2 linked regions of the Homo sapiens genome follow. The protein of the gene in region 1 interacts with the protein of each later gene in a pairwise test. Each region holds a gene or a part of one and is shown on either strand. Other genes may lie near its edges.

The links. The genes of interacting proteins can lie anywhere in the genome.
Region 2: the proteins of CRACR2B (region 1) and IL36RN interact in binary tests that used the Homo sapiens proteins (3 or more experiments, as listed by UniProt).

What each region holds. Positions count from the first base shown.
Region 1 is NC_000011.10:823,289-830,934, reverse strand, and holds the start of CRACR2B (EF-hand calcium-binding domain-containing protein 4A), read right to left. Parts: upstream 3,017-7,646; 5' UTR 2,328-3,016; coding exon 2,163-2,327; intron 2,084-2,162; coding exon 1,972-2,083; coding exon of another isoform or gene 1,752-1,971; intron 1,576-1,751; coding exon 1,395-1,575; intron 968-1,394; coding exon of another isoform or gene 950-967; coding exon 803-949; intron 686-802; coding exon 598-685; coding exon of another isoform or gene 315-597; coding exon 222-314; intron 70-221; coding exon 1-69. Other genes in the region: PNPLA2 (patatin-like phospholipase domain-containing protein 2), read right to left, coding at 6,073-6,412, 6,499-6,621, 6,805-6,937, 7,080-7,241, 7,348-7,408. UniProt on the Homo sapiens protein: Plays a role in store-operated Ca(2+) entry (SOCE).
Region 2 is NC_000002.12:113,054,214-113,062,204, reverse strand, and holds the start of IL36RN (interleukin-36 receptor antagonist protein), read right to left. Parts: upstream 3,008-7,991; 5' UTR 2,964-3,007; intron 2,794-2,963; 5' UTR 2,767-2,793; coding exon 2,738-2,766; intron 1,354-2,737; coding exon 1,268-1,353; intron 82-1,267; coding exon 1-81. UniProt on the Homo sapiens protein: Inhibits the activity of interleukin-36 (IL36A,IL36B and IL36G) by binding to receptor IL1RL2 and preventing its association with the coreceptor IL1RAP for signaling.

The sequences.
Region 1 (7,646 bases):
CCACAGCTGGGAGTTCTGGGCCTGTGCCTCCAGGTGCTCCGCAGCCTGGGCGTGCAGCTGCTGCTCTAACTGGAGGGTGGAAGGATGGAGACCGGCGAGGAACGCCCCCTCTTCCCCGGGGTGCTGCGCGTGCCCCAGGCTCCCGACAACCCGGGGACGCTAAGGCACAGGGGGAGAGTGCACGGGTGACCGTGGGGACAGGGCAGGGGCCGGGTGCTCACCTCCCGCTGCCGCAGGCCCGCGCGTTCCAGGTCCTGCTCGCGGCTCTGCAGCTCCAGCTCCAGACGGCTTCTCCGCTCCCCGCGGGCGAAGTTCTGGGACGCACGGAGGACCACTGAGCCTCCGCCGGCCGCTCGGCCATGCAAAAGAGGTACACGGAGGGCCAGGGGCTGGGAGTGGGCCCGGGCGGAGCGGGGTCGGGTGGAGAAGACCGGACGGGGGTGATACGTGAGGCCCAGTGGGATCTCCTCGGGCTGAGGGCAGCCTGGACCCGCGGAGGTGGGGCCGTCGGGGAGGGATTAATTCAGAGAAGGCGGAGCCAGGGAGGCCAGCGAGGTGGGATTGGGCCTGGCGGGAGGGGCGGGGCCCGAGGCCCACCTGACTCGGCGGGCGCCGGCTCTGCTCCCGAAGCTGCTCCGTCTCCTCGTACAGAGCGCGCACCTCCCTCTCGTGCTCGCTCTCGCGCCTTCGGGGGACCGGGCGACCCCGGATGAGAACTTGCCAGCGCTACAGCCCCCTGGCACCGCCTCTGCTGCTGCCCTGAGGCCCTCCATTGGCCCCCATACCCCACCCCGGCCCTCACCTCCGCAGCGCCTGCTCCAGGCCGTCGCGCTCCCGGGCCGCCTCCTCCAGGCAGGCCGACGCGCGTATCAGAACATCCTCGAAAGAGCCCAGCAGCTCGGGGCGCTCGCGCTGCAGCCTGGCCCAGAGCGTCCTCACAGCCCGCTGCCTGGAGGGCGGGCGGGAACTGAGGCTGGAGCTGGCAGAAGCGGGAAGCAGGCTTCCCTCCGCCAGCAGCAAACCCTTAGGAGACTTCTTCGCCCCTGGGCAGGACAGGAGCACTTGCTGCGTGCAGGGCATCCCTCCCGTGAGCGCTTTCGCCCCTGCCCGGCGTGCGTGGTCGGTGAGGTGTGTGTACCCTGGGCAGTGCCGGTATGTGGCCCCGCGCCCGGCGCTGCCCCTCCTCCCTGCAGCCCTGGCTGCTGCCTCATGAAATGCAAATTCTGCGGGAAATCATGCCGGGTCCCTCCCAGGGAATCGCAGCTGACGCTAGGCTGGGCCTGACCCGGCCTAGAGACCCTGTGCAGAACCAGCACTCGGGTGACAAGGGCAGACAGCATGCAGGCAGAGAAACAGCAGAGCGGGCAGTGGGAGCGGGGCCAGCGCCGACTCACTTGCCCAGGACCGGGGCCACCCCCAGCTGCTCCAGCACAGTGTGGAATCGCTCCTCCTCTTCCTCCTCCTCATCCAGAGAGCCCGCCGTGCCCTGCACGTCGAGCCCGCCCGACTCAAAGGTCTCCTCGGGAGTCCTGCAGGGGTTCGCTCCCTGGGCTGACGCCACCCCCACAAACATCCCTGCGGGCATGGAGCGAGCGATTACCAGGGCTGTGGGTCGCCACCGTGGCTGTGTCCCCGTTCACCCTCCCAACGAGTATCCTGCCCTCTCTCAGGGCCCAGTTTCCTGTTTTCCTTCCTTATTCTGGTCCTATTGGCCTGGAAACAAGAGGTGACAGGCCAGCTCCCAGCCCTACCGGAGCTTAGCACAGGAGAGGAGCTGGGGGCCAGGAAGGTCAGCTCCACACACTCCACCGCAGCTAGGAGCCCCCAGGCGCGAGTGCGTGCAGACAAAGCACGGGCCCTGGAGGGAGGAGGACGAGAGGCACCGGCAGCCCTCAGGGCGCCACAAGTGCCAGGCCTCCTGATCAGGCCTCCAGCTCTGGGCAGTGGGGGATAGGCAGGCCACAGGCTCACCCAGGCCCAGGCAGAACTCCCTGGCGGTGAGGAAGCCAGTGTGAGCCCGGTCCAGACTTTCAAACACAGCCTCCAGCTGCTCTGGCGTGAGGGGCAGGTCGCTCTGGAGACCCTGGTCGGGGAAGGAGAGCAGAGATGAGCCGCTGCGGTCAACCCAGGGCCGAAGCAGTCTCTTGGGGTGGGGGACTCACCTGCAGGTCGTGCTTGGTGATGAAGCCCTTAGCCTCCTTGTCACACAGCAGAAACAGCTCCTCAGCCTGCTCCAGTATTGCAGCCCGCGGCCCTGCAGAGCCCCCCTCGAGTTCCCCCTCCTCCTCCTGGGCCTCATCAGCCCCAGGCTTTCCAGGGCTGGCCATGAGAGCAGGGGGCCTCAGCCTGGCCTTCAGGTGCTGTGAAGCCAAGGGAGGGTCAGAAGAAATTCAGGAGGGGAGCGGATGGGGTGCAAGTGTGTCTGAAGGCTCAGCCGAGGGCCCTCCCTGCAGCAGGTGGGAAGGTGGGCGGAAGGCAAGGTGGGACCAGGGGGCTGGGGGTGGAAAATGCTGCAGGCTTGGGGTGTCACTGGGGTGGTTGATGTAGGCTCAGGGCCTGTGGGTACTGCCCCAGTGGGTCTGGCATCTCAGGAGGCTGGAACCCAGGAGGGGCTGCCAACTTCAGGAGAGGAGGAGCTGGAGGTGATGGCAATCTCAGGGGCCAGTGGAGAAGACCTGGTGATAAGGAAGGTGGGGTCCTGAAAGCTGAGAGGAGCAGGCTTGGGGTCAGTGAGGGAGGAGCCCCTCACACTCTGCAACTGGAGATCTGATCCCAAGTGAGGGCTCAGCCAGTCCTGACCAAGTCCTTAGCCCCTGGCCTGGGCCTGTGTGGCCCAGCCTCATGACAGCTGGCAGGCAGGGCAGACTTCTCCCTCCTGCCCACCGGCCCCTCCCTCCCCACAACTGAGCCCACAGAGTGCAGGGGCAAGGTCCCAGCCTGCAGAGCCCTTCGCCTCTGACGCCCCACTCAGGAACACTTCCAGATTCGAGACCTAACACCCTTGCCCCACAACACTGAGGCCCTTCCCCGTTTCAGAACTCCCTGGGGCCTCCCTTCCCACCTCCTTGCAGGGACGCCCCGCCCCCTAACCAGAGCCACCTGTCCTTCACACAATGTCCTGATCCCGGATTTCCCAAAGCTGCTCCCCACCAACACCCGCCTTCCCCCACCGGGGAGCTGGGATCCTCTCCCCTCACTCTCCACCCAGCGTCCTTCCATGTTCCTTAGCCCGGGCGACCTCCAAAGAGGGCAAGTCTGGGCGGGTGAGAGAAGGGGACACGAGAGGCCAGGGCCATTGCCTCCAGGCCACGTTGTTGTCTCGCCCGCCCTCCGGCTTGCCGGCTAGACCTGAGGTCCACCCCAGCCGGAAGCCGCGCGGCAGCAGGGCCCCAGGGAGGTGGGAGGATGGGCTGGTGGGGTGGGGCGGCCAGCCTCCTGTGCTCCCCGAAACTCTGGGGGACAACCCCGCCCTTACCCCTGCCGCCTTGCGCCCCGAGGGGGTAACCGGAGTTCCCGACCGAGACGCTCAGGTTTGGCGCGGGCCACGGCGGCCCGGAGGGGGTGCCGGGCGGGCGGCAGTGGAGGGGCCTCAGCGGCGGGACCAGCGGTCGCCTACCCGCGAGTTGCGCCGCCGCACCTGCCGCGCGCCCGGGCCGCTCCTCCCGGAAACACTGGGCGCGCCCCGCCCCAGCTGGGACCCGGACGGGACGTAGAGGGCACTGGGCCCCGAGCGACCCCTGCCGCTTCGCAGGCACCGAGACCCCCGCTTGGGCCGGCCCCGGGAGGAGCCACTCTGCGCCGCTGTCGCCTGTCCCCGCCTCTCTGCGCTGCCCCGGCGGCCCGATCCCTGGAGGCTCGAGCGAGCAGTGAAGCAACGATATGCCCCAGAGACCCAGGGACCCCCCGGAGCAGGGACAAGGCTGCGGGGGGCGGGCGCAGACACCAGCGCCTGGGAGGGGCCCCTCCTGTCCGGGGGGAGCCCGACTTAAGGCGCCAAAAAGTGTGTGTAGGAAAAAGCCGGGCAGGAAACAGACCAAATACTTTCAGCGGTTATCTCTAGGGGTGGGGAGCCTTTACTTTCTTCTCTATACTTTCCCGGTTTTTAAACAATAAACATGTAGGCCGGGCGCCTGTAATCCCAGCACTTTGGGGGGCTGAGACAGGGGCAGATCACCTGAGGTCAGGAGTTCGAGACCAGCCTGCCCAACATGGCGAAACCCCGTCTCTACTAAAAATACAAAAAATTAGCCAGGTGTGGTGGTGGGCGCCTGTAATCCCAGCACTTTGGGAGGCTGAGCCAGGAGAATCACTTGAACTCGGGAGGCAGAGTTTGCAGTGAGCCGAGATTGTGCCATTGCACTGGGCAACAAGAACGAAACTCCATCTCAAAACAAAACAATGAACGTGTAATGCTAGAAAATGTTTAACTTAGCAGTATTCAGTGTATATGTATGGGTGAACGAGCTGGGGACTCAGGCAGGTCCCACCTCAGTAGCCCCTCCTGGCTCTCCTTCTGGGGCCCAGCCCTGACTGGGGCTCCCCTTGGGGGAGGATTGGAAGGAGGAGCTGCTTGAGGCCCGAGTGAAACCCTCCTGTGGGGGGAGAAAATTCCACCCCAGACCGAGGAGCCCTCCCCAGCCCCAGCCCCAGCCTGGCCCCTGCACCCACCTGAAGGGCTGGAATCACTGTCCCGCCCGGCAACCCTGGGGGGTACAAGGCCTCTGCTTTTCAAGGAAGGGGCCTGGGATCCAGCGTGCGACCCAGCTGAACCACAAAAGGCTGGGCTTATAGGACAGGACCTTGAGACCAAGGGGGGTGGCCTCTGGCACAGGCACATCAGGGACCTGCCTGGCCGGCTCGCCCAGTCCCAGATCCCAGAACCAACCGTTATTGTTGGCAGGGGGCTGCCACCACAGCCACCCCACGCCTTCTGGGAGGAGCAGGTGGGGGCTGGCTCCAGCACCCTCAGGCCATGGGGCCTTTTTGGTTGCCAAGGAGGGCTGGCCTTCTCCCCTCATGGCCTCCCTGCCATGAAGAGGATGCCCTCAGGAAACCACTTCCCCAGCACAGGGCTGAGTCCCCTTCAGCTAGGACCTCACCTGCCTCCATATCCCAGCCCTGCCCTGTGTACTGGCAGGAGGCTGGGCAGGGGAACAAGAAGGTATGTGCACCAGGCCAGAGAGGCTTGTGAGGGTGGGGGGACAGAGAACTTTGGGCCAAACGCCCAAGTGGAGCAGGGGCCCAGCTTTCCCAGGTCCCCTGTGCTTGGTTTCAGGAACCTCAGCCCCCACAGCTGGCCAAGCCCCAAAACAGTCACACACCCCACTGTGTCACCGTGTGAGGGGAGGGGCAGGCGACACCTTTTGCAAACATTTTCGTTTTTATTTACCAAGAATCTTGGTCCCAAATATTTCCATTGGCCCTCAGAAGGCTGTGGCCAAGGGTCAGCCAGGAGGCTGCTGGGCAAAATTGGGGGGGGTGTGGATGCATCCTAGACAGGGGGGTCGGCAGGAATGCAGTACGTTCATATGTGCCTGTAGGGGGGTGTTCCCAGGCCAGCCTGGCAGGTTCCAAATGCCAGGCCCAGGAGTGCGACGCTGGGAGACCTGGCCTGCAGCTGTGGAGAGGCTGGTCAGCCAAGGTAGGGCCAGACCCTGGCCACCAGGCTCTCACTGCAAGTAAGCAGGCGGTCACATACACACAAAGTGGGCAGAGGCTGGGCTGCAGCATTTATTACATGTGCTTTGGCGAAAATAAATAATTCTTCACACACATATTTCAGCAGGCCATGAAAAACGGGGAGGGAAGGGCAGCTGCAAAGTTCTCAGGAGTAAAGGGGCGGGGGAGGTGCTCGGGCAGCACAGGGGAGGGAAGATTAAGGCACAGGTGCGCGGGGCCTCAGCGGCCCAGGGGAGGGGTGTGGAAACCTCCCCTCTCAGTGCATGCAGCTGGTGAGTGGCTGGCGAGGGGGCCCACGGCAAAGACCCCTCTTGGCAACTGTGAGTCCCCTCATCTCACTGCGCAGTGGTAATGGAGGCGTCTCAGGCAGGGTTCCTCGAGAGGGTCGGGGTCTCACAGCCCCAGGGCCCCGATCACGGGCCGGGCCTCGGGAGCAGGGGTGCTCAGCAAGGGGGCAGGCCCGGCCAGCTGGTGCTGCGGGGATGCTGGGTCCGCGGGGGCGGGAGCCGGGTCGGCGGGTGCGCGCATGCGCAGAGCTTCGGGCGGGAAGGCCACGTTGGTGCAGAAGAGGCCGAGCAGCAGCTGGCGCTGGCACTCCTCCCACTTGGCCAGCGCGTCCCCCAGCGAGAGGTTGTTGCGCATCCAGCCGGGCAGTGCCTCTCTGTAGGCGGCGCAGGACAGCGGCACGGACGGCAGCGACTGGACGCGGCGCAGCTCCACCTGCTCCGGCAGCCTGCGGGGCAGGGATGCGGCAGGGAGGGCTTCAGCTCCCGGCGCTAGCACCGCGGGCCCCGGGTGGACGCGCGGTCGGCGGCTCACCTGGAGGGCAGGTGCCTGCCCAGCTTCCTCTTGGCGCGCATCACCAGGTACTGGCAGATGCTGCCCGTCTGCTCCTTCATCCACCGGATGTCCTCGGGAACGTCGGGCAGCCACTCCAGCAAGCTGGGGACAGGGCGAGCGGCGCGTTCAGGGACTTGGCCAGACCCACATGCCCACCCGCCGGGCCCTGTCTGTGCCCTGACTTGGCACTGCTCACCCCACCCCACCTTCCCTGGTAACCATCACTCGCGGATGATCCCAAAGTCCGTCCCCTGGGCCCCTCTCCCGACCCCCCAGCCCTCACACCGGATGGTGAAGGACAGAGCGCTCTCCAGCGGCAGCGTGTAGGGCACCATCATGGCCGTGGCCAGACGCACAGGCAGCATGTTGGAGAGGGTGGTCAGCAGGTCCGTGGGCTCCACGCAGGCCTCCAGCAGGGCTGCGGGTGGGCGGGAGGTCGGCGGCCAGTGGAGGCAGCGGGGCCCAGGACCCGCTCGGCTTCCCTCCCCTGCTCACCGTCCTCTCCTCTCTCTCTTTCCCTCCTGCCTCCCCTCCTCCCCTCCCGTCCCCCAGGTGCGCACCCTCATTGAGCCGGGCGGGCAGGTGCTCCAGGATGTGATCTTCTCCGGGCAGCTGCGAGTAATCCTCCGCTTGGGCGCTCTCCACTGCCTGGTCCTTGTCCTCTGGGCCGTGGGGGCGGGCGGGGGGCAACGCCAGCAAGGGGTTGGGCCGGTTCAGGAGGCCTGGGGTTGGGGAGAGAAGGGATTCTCAGTTCATCAGCGCGGCCGCGGCCCGCAGGGGGTAGCAGAGCCGAGCCCACCCCGCCCTCTCCCGCCCGGGTCCGCGCACCGTTCCGCTGCAGAAAGCGCAGGCCATCCCGGTATCCCTGCTTGCACATCTCTCGCAGCACCTGCAGTGAGGAGGGTTAAATGGAGCGGAGGGAGCCAGGGATGCCCGTTCTGCCCCTGGAATCCCTGGCACCCCCAACAGCCACCTCCCTTCACTACCCGCAGCTCCCAACCCCAAAACCTATCCTAGATCCAGAACAAGATCAAAGCTGTACAGGGAGGTTGGACAGAAAGCCGGGCGCAGTGGCTTACACCTGTAACCCCAGCACTTTGGGAGGCTGAGGCAGGCGGATGACGAGG
Region 2 (7,991 bases), on another chromosome or scaffold:
GGCTTCCACCCTGGACACCCAGGATGACGGGGGACAGGCTGGCATCCAGCCACCGATTGGGGACCACGCTGATCTCTTCACCTGTGGGAAAGAGGCCAGATGCAGGGCCCTGGATGCCTTTCCCTCCTTCTTCCCCTGTCCTGGGCTCTAGGGCACAGGACTGCTGTAAGACGGCCTGCCCCCAGGCTGGGCAGAAGGGAGGCTTCTCAGCAGCTGTCATGACATGGCTTCTCCTGTCCACTGGCTCAGAGTGGACATCAAGGCATGGAAGCACATTGTACCACCTCCACTCCACCCTCTAGTTCAGGGTCAAATCTTCAAGCCTCTACACCCCAAAATAGATTCAACCCCCTCCTTTAATGTCCCTTGGGTCTCAGGCCTTTTTCTGAACCCTGTCTTGATAAGCCCCCCTTTGGAATTGTTTGGACAACTTTCTACACCCTGTGATGTTGCTGAGAGCAAAAGAGGGTCTCATTCCTCTCTGTACATCCCCTCACCACCCACATACATCAGATACATACATACACAGATACATGCATGCACACATATACATATACACACACATGCTCATACCTACATACCTGCACTCACACATACATGGTTACACACAGATACATGCATGCACACATGCTCACACATATATGCCTGCATGCACACATACATACACCAGTAAGCACACACATACACATATGGCCTAGCTGAAGGATCTACCTGGCATCTGTGCTCAGCAAGGGTGCCCCAGGTGGGCAGGTGCAAACTATTTTAGAGAGGGACGTGTTGCAGTGCATGGGGCAGAGTGAGCAAGCAGGAGGTCCAACAATGCCACCTGTTCTCTGGGTCCCTCCACTCTAAGTGACTGAGGATCTTCAGAGAGCAGAGGGGACCCAGGGTGGAGAGGCAGAAACCCACTCCCATATGGGAAAAAAGGTATAGAGAATCTACGTTAGTTCTCTCCTTGGTACTTACTGGCTCCCAGGGAATGCAATGCTTGACCTAAATCTACCTGTAAGGGAATGACAAGACAAGCCTCTTGGAAAACATTCCCACTTCTGCATAGAAGCTTCAGGTGGCCCCAGAGCCTGTGTCTTCACTTTGCTGAGAGGTGTAGTATTTTATTTGCCTTTGCTTAGAGCCTGGTTTGTGCTGCCCCAATGCCTGGGCTCTGTAGGCCTATGCTAATCTGTATGACTATTCTAAGCCCTCTTCAGGCCCCCTCCCCTGAGAGTGTATAGAGACCAAGGAAAGTGGGTCATGTTTCATCACCAACCTTTAATGACCTTCCCTGCATGCAGCCCTCCAGCTAGAAGCTGGTTATTATGCAGATAAAGCACCTTCAATGCCGAGTCCTTCATTCTGAAACATCAGGAAGGGGTGAGGACTACATTAGGAGGAGGGTGGACACTCCAGCATGCCCTGGATCCAGAGAACCCCCTGATCTCAGGCATTTTGTCTCTCTTTCTTCCTACTGTGCCAGAAGTAACAGCACAGCCTTGTCTCCCAGCCCTGCTGGGCTCATGCCCTACAAGGAGGATGACCCCACAGTCTCCCACTGGAGTCTGTGGTTTGCTCCTTCACCCTATTCAACCTTTTCTGCCCCAACCCATCTCCTGCTGGAAGAGAAGCTGCACGGTGAGTCAGAGCCCTAGGTTCTTGCCCCATCTCTGCCTCCAATGCTGCTGAGTCGCAGGAGACAACTCTCTCGCCCACTCTGGGCCTGAGCCTCCCCATTGCTACACTAAGATGATGGGTTGGATAACATCCAGGCCTCTTCCACGTTAAAGCCTGATTCTTCAATTCTTCAAGATACATGTATTTCTATTTGGTCATATATTCCTTACTAAGTGAGGAGTTTCTTTAAATTTAAATTTCTTTTATTTAACTTTTCAAAGTTGTTTCTCATCTTTGAACTCAGTTGATTTCCTGGCATCCTATGAGGTGGAAGATGTATCCTAAAGTGGGTTTCTCCAAAAGTTATATGGGGGAAAAGGATGCAGTGTAAAAATTGGGTCGATGCATGGCTAAATACAATTCAACAAGTTGCCTTACTTCAGAAAACCTCAGAGTCACTCATATGCTGAGCTGGGCTGTGGTTCTCTTATGAGAGGATGTAGAAAGCAGAATTCCCTGCATTTACTTGATCAGAGAGCTCCACTGTGTAAAGCATCTCCTGGATGCCTCTGTGGGACTCCTCTAATCGAGTCCCATAGAACACATCATGGGAAGTGCTTTATTAGACTGAGAGAAAGGACCACTCTCATCCTCTGTTGTAAAGCCCAGAACACGGCAGAGTGTCTGGCTTGGTACATGCCAGTGGGTGGACAGACTGACTGATGGTAATGGTTTTTGTTTTATTATTATCCCCAAAGAGTAGCAGGGAGGCAGGGGCACAGAGTGGGTGAGCTTACATCCATTCACTGTGATGGGGGACAATGGCGGAGCTCTGAGCAGGGATCCTGGCCCCCGTTCCCACCTTGGATAGACTTGGCTGGAGCTCTAGACTGGGAGGTTCACTTATCCCCCTCAGCATCAGGGACCCCTTGTGAGATGGCCTGCCCCAGTCCTGCCCCTATTTGAAAAAGGCTGGGAAAACTCTAAGAGCAGTGAGGTGCTGGTCACAATTTCCCAGCTGCAATGGCAGCCCCTCCCTTCCTCCCTCCTGCTCAGAGCTGGACAACGGGTCTATCCAGAACTCACTTCCTCCGGAGGACACCACCAAACCAGGGCCTCATACACTCACCGGAAGCACAGCGCCCCACTCAGGACCATCTTGAGCTCCACAGGGTGTAGACTCCCCTATTTTGGAATAAACAACAGAAAATCATGGAGAGAGAGGCTGAGTTGGCTGGGGTCTGGGGAGCAAGCAGCTGCACCGAGCTCCCCAGCATGTGAACAGCCTCCACGGAGCAGATTCTGGGTCTGGGGTCAGGAGAGAGCTCCGGTACCACCAGCGCCCCAGAGCATACCTCAGAATGTTCCTTTCTCCTGGCGGGAGCTGTGGAGTCTGCCTGTTCCTCCAAGGATGCCTCAGCCTTTTAAGTAAGGCCTAGGGAGGGGCCCTGAAACTGCCAGGACCTGAGGAGGAGCAGGATTCCCAGCGTGATTTCACATCACCCTAAGTCGCCAGAAGCACTTGCTGCTCATTATCTGTCGTGGGGAGGGAAGCTTCTGGAGACAGTTTCCTTCCAGAAATATTGAAGAACTTCCTTGAGGCTTTCCAGCTCTTTGTGAGCACTAGGCTTTTGCATCTCAGGGGCTTTCAGACCCTAAGAGTCAGTGCCCATGGCAGCTCAAGGGAAGCGCGACTTTCTTTCCTCCCTGCCTCCCTCCCTTTCTTCCTTCTTTCCATCTTTCATTCACTCACTCCCTCCCTTTTCCCTTCCTTTCTTCCCTCCCTCTTTCCTTCCTTTCCTTCTTTCCCTTCCCATTTCCTCCCTTCCTCCCCTATTCCCTTTCTTCCTTACCTTTTTCACTCCTTCCTTCACTCCTTCCCTTCTCCCTCCTTCCTTCCTCTGTCTTTCCTGCCTGCCATTGCCAGGCCTACAGGAGATGTTAGAGGTGGGACTCTCCTGCTTAGGGAATGTTCAGCCTACATGTTCATTGTAGAAAAACCTGAAAATCCAGATCAGCCACAAGAAAAAATGTGAATACTTGTCTTTTCTGAGTGCATCATCAGAAAACCAATGACAACACTATTTCCTCCACACACATACACATGTAACTATAGACAGCTTTCATACAACAGATTCACAAAACCTATACTTTTTCCAACCTCATTTTTTCATGTGGCAAAATAGCAAAATATCTTTCCATACTAAATATGAATAATGACATGCTTCAATAGCTGTATAGTATTTAACTGTATCACTGTAACATTATTTATTGAAACCTATCCACTGTTATTTGTCTTTTATATATTTTTCTCTCTTTTTTTGCTATTGAAAACCATGTTGTGACAAACATCTTTGTATTAACATCTTTGCTCATGTATCTGGTTATTTCTTTAGAAAGTAAAATCTAGCTCATGCCATCTATAATTCTGTAAGTGATCTTTCTTGAATACCTAATTGATAAGATAATACTTAATTGTGAAACAGTTAATGCAGTTTAAATACCTCCATGCACTCTCTGTGATGGATCTGAAATAAAGGTAAGGGTCAGTGCACAAAAAACAATTTAATTATATCTTGAATAACACAGATAACTATTTATTAATAATTTATTGTTAAAGCATACACTTTTTTTTTAAGTTTTATTTTTCTTTTTTCTTTTATTATTATTATTATACTTTAAGTTTTAGGATACATGTGTACAATGTGCAGGTTTGTTACATATGTGTACATGTTAAAGCGTACATTTTAAAGAAATGGTATTCAGACATATGAGCCAAGAGGTCCTACAAGTGTTCAAGAATAAATAAAATATCAAGTTGTTCAAAACACAGAAAATAATCTACGATTTTCATAATGCCACTAATATGATAGACACTTTTCAGAAAAATAAAATTAATGTAGAAACTGCCTTGTACAAAATTATTAAATTACAAATTGACCAAATGGAATGACAGTAGAAATAAGATGAAATGAGACAAGCCTGGCCAACGTGGCAAAACCCCATCTCTACTGAAAACACAAAAATTAGCCGGGTTGGTGGTGCACATTTGTAATCCAAGCTACTCAGGAGGCTGAGGTGTGAGAATTGCTTGAACCTGGGAGGTGGAGGTTGCAGTGAGCCAAGATTGAGCCACTGTACTCCAGCCTGGATGACAGAGAGAGCTAGACTCTGCCTCAATAAATAAATAAATAATAAGTAAAATGAAACTATGACTGTGTATACTGTCAATATTATATGAAAACATTATCAAACAGGCCTCACCAACAATAAGTTCTCTCTGGACCTATCCCTTTGCTTGACTTACTAATTAGGTCTCAGACTCTGTGAAATTAGCCATGAACTAAGAGAACATTGATAAATTACACATTATTCCTGTCTGATAGAAAAGATAACTCCAAAGGGTGCAGTTTTATTGCCTCACAAGTCATAAAGCTGTCTTTAAAACGTAACTTAGCCAACCTATTTCAGCCTTTATTTCTTGACTGACGGTATAAGCCTCCATTCCCTGAATTATCTTTTGATAATCAGCTTTATAATCTTGCTGATTCCCTCACTTATGAAAAATAGTAAATCTTTGACACATGCTCACTATATGTGTGTATGAGAGTCAAGTTTTGAACTTCTGAAAAATAAACTTTGGCACTACCTAAAGACAATGCTGCCAATTCGCAAACCATGTGTGGCTGTTTTAAAATATGTCCATAAATTCTTGGAAACTTCATCTTTAAGAAGGTGATATGGTTTGGCTCTGTTCCCACCCAAATTTCATCTTGAATTGTAGCTTCTATAATTCCCACGTGTCATGGAAGGAACCCAGTGGGAGGTAATTGAATCATGGGGGCAGGTCTTTCTTGTGCTGGTCTCATGATAGTGAATAAGTCTCACAAGATCTGATGGTTTTATACAGGGGAATTTCCCCACACAAGCTCTCCTGCCTGCCACTATGTAAGACATGACTTTGCTCTTCTTTCATCATCTTCCACCATGATTGTGAGGCCTCCCCAGCCATGTGGAACTCTAAGTCAATTCAACCTCTTTCCTTTATAAATTACACAGTCTTGGTTATGTTGTTATTAGCAGCATGAGAACAGACTGATATAGTAAATTGATACTGGGAGTGGGGCGCTATGTTACATGATGAACATGGCAGCATCATAAAAGGCATTGCAATTTCCTCCTAGCTCTTAGATCACTCACCTGGACAAAGCCAGCCACTATGTGATAAGGACACTCAAGCAGCCCTATGGAGAGGCCCACGTGGTGAGAAACTATTTTTTCCTGCCAACAGTCTGTGAATGCACAATCTTAGAAGCAGATCCTCTAGCCCCAGTCAAGCCTTCAGATGACTGCAACCCTGGCTGACATCTTTCCTGTAACCTAATGAGACACCCTGAGCCAAACCCTCCAGCCAAGCCAGTTTTCTCATTCCTGACTCTCAGCCTTTGTTAAATAATAATTTTTTCTTGTTTTAAGCTGCTAACTTTGCTGATACTTTGTTACACAACAATTGGTAACTAACACACCTTGACATCACTATTGGCATTTCAGCACTTTAACACTTTGCCTGTTACCCAGCAATTTGGAACTGGGTAAAAGGCAGAGGTTGGAACAGTTTGGAGGGCTCAGAAGAAGATAGGAGGATGTGGGAAAGTTTGCAACTTCCTGGAGACTCACTGAATAGCTTTGACCAAAATGCTGATAGTGATATGGACAATAAGGTCCAGGCTGAGGTGGTCTCAGATGGAGATGAGGAACTTGTTGGGAACTGAAGCAAAGGTGACTCTTGTTATGCTTTAGCAAAGAGACTGGCAGCATTTTGCCCCTGACCTAGAAATCTGTGGAACTTTGAACTTGAAAGAGATGATTTAGGGCATCTGGCAAAAGAAATTTCTAAGCAGCAAAGTATTCAAGAGGTGATTTGGGTGCTGATAACATTCAGTTTTATGTATTCACAAATATATGGTTTGGAATTGGAACCTACATTTAAAAGGGAAGCAGAGCATAAAAGTTTGGAAAACATGCAGCATGAAGATGAGATAAGAAAAACCTATTTTCTGAAGAGAAATTCGAGCTGGCTGCAGAAATTTGCATAAGGAAAGAGGAGCCAAATGTTTTTCACCAAGAAAATGGGGAAAGTGTCTCCAGGGCATATCAGAGGTCTTCACAGAAGCCCCTCCCATCACAGACCTGGAGGTCCAGGAGGAAAAAATGGTTTCATGGGCCAGACCCAGGGCCTGGCAGCTTTGTGTAGTCTCAGGACTTGGGATGACTTGCATCCCAGCCACTCCAGCTTTGGCTAAAGAGGGCAAAGGTACAGCTTGGGTCATGGCTTTAGAGGGTGTAAATCCCAACCCTTGGCAGCTTCCATGTGGTGTTGAGCCTGTGGGTGCACAAAAGTGAAGAACTGAGGTTTGGGAGCCTCCGCCTAGATTTCATAGGATGTTTGGAAATGTCTAAATGTCCAAGCAGAGGTGTGCTGCATGGGCATAGCCCTCATGGAGAACCTCTGCTAGGGCAGTGCAGAAGGGAAATGTGGGGTGGGAGCCCCCACACAATGTCCCCACTGGGGCATTGTCTAGTGGAACTGTGAGAAGAGGGCCACTGTCCTCCAGATCCCAGAATGGTAGATCCACCAACAGCTTATGCTGTGTGCCTGGAAAAGCCACAGACAGTGTCAGCCCATGAAAGCAGCCAGGAGGAGGGTTGTACCCTGCAAAGTCACAGGAGTGGAGCTTCCAAAGACTATGGGAACCCACCTCTTGCATAAGCATGACCTGGATGTGAGACAGAGACTCAAAGGAGGTAATTTTGAAGCGTTAAGATTTGACTGCCCCGCTGGATTTTGAACTTGCATGGGGCCTGTAGCCCCTTTGTTTTGGCCAATTTCTCCCATTTGGAATAGCTGTACTTACCAAATGCCTGTACTCCTATTGTATTTAGGAAGTAACTAACTTGCTTTTGATTTTACAGCTCATAGGCAGAAGAGACTTGCCTTGTCTCAGATGAGACTTTGGACTGTGGAATTTTGAGTTAATGCTGAAATGCGTTAAGACCCTGGGGGACTGTTGGGAAGGCATGATTGGTTTTGAAATGTGAGGACATGTGATTTGCGAGGAGCCAGGGGTGGAATGATATAGTTTGGCTGTGTCCCCACCCAAAGCTCATCTTGAGTTGTTGCTCCCATAATTCCCATATGTCATGGAAGGGACCCAGTGGGAGGTAACTGAATCATCAGGGCAGGTCTTTCCTGTGCTATTCTCATTCTAGTGAATAAGTCTCATGAGACCTGATGGTTTTATAAAGGGGCATTCCCCTACACAAGCTCTCTTCCCTCCTGCCATGTAAGATGTGACTTTGCTCTTCCTTCATCTTCCATCATG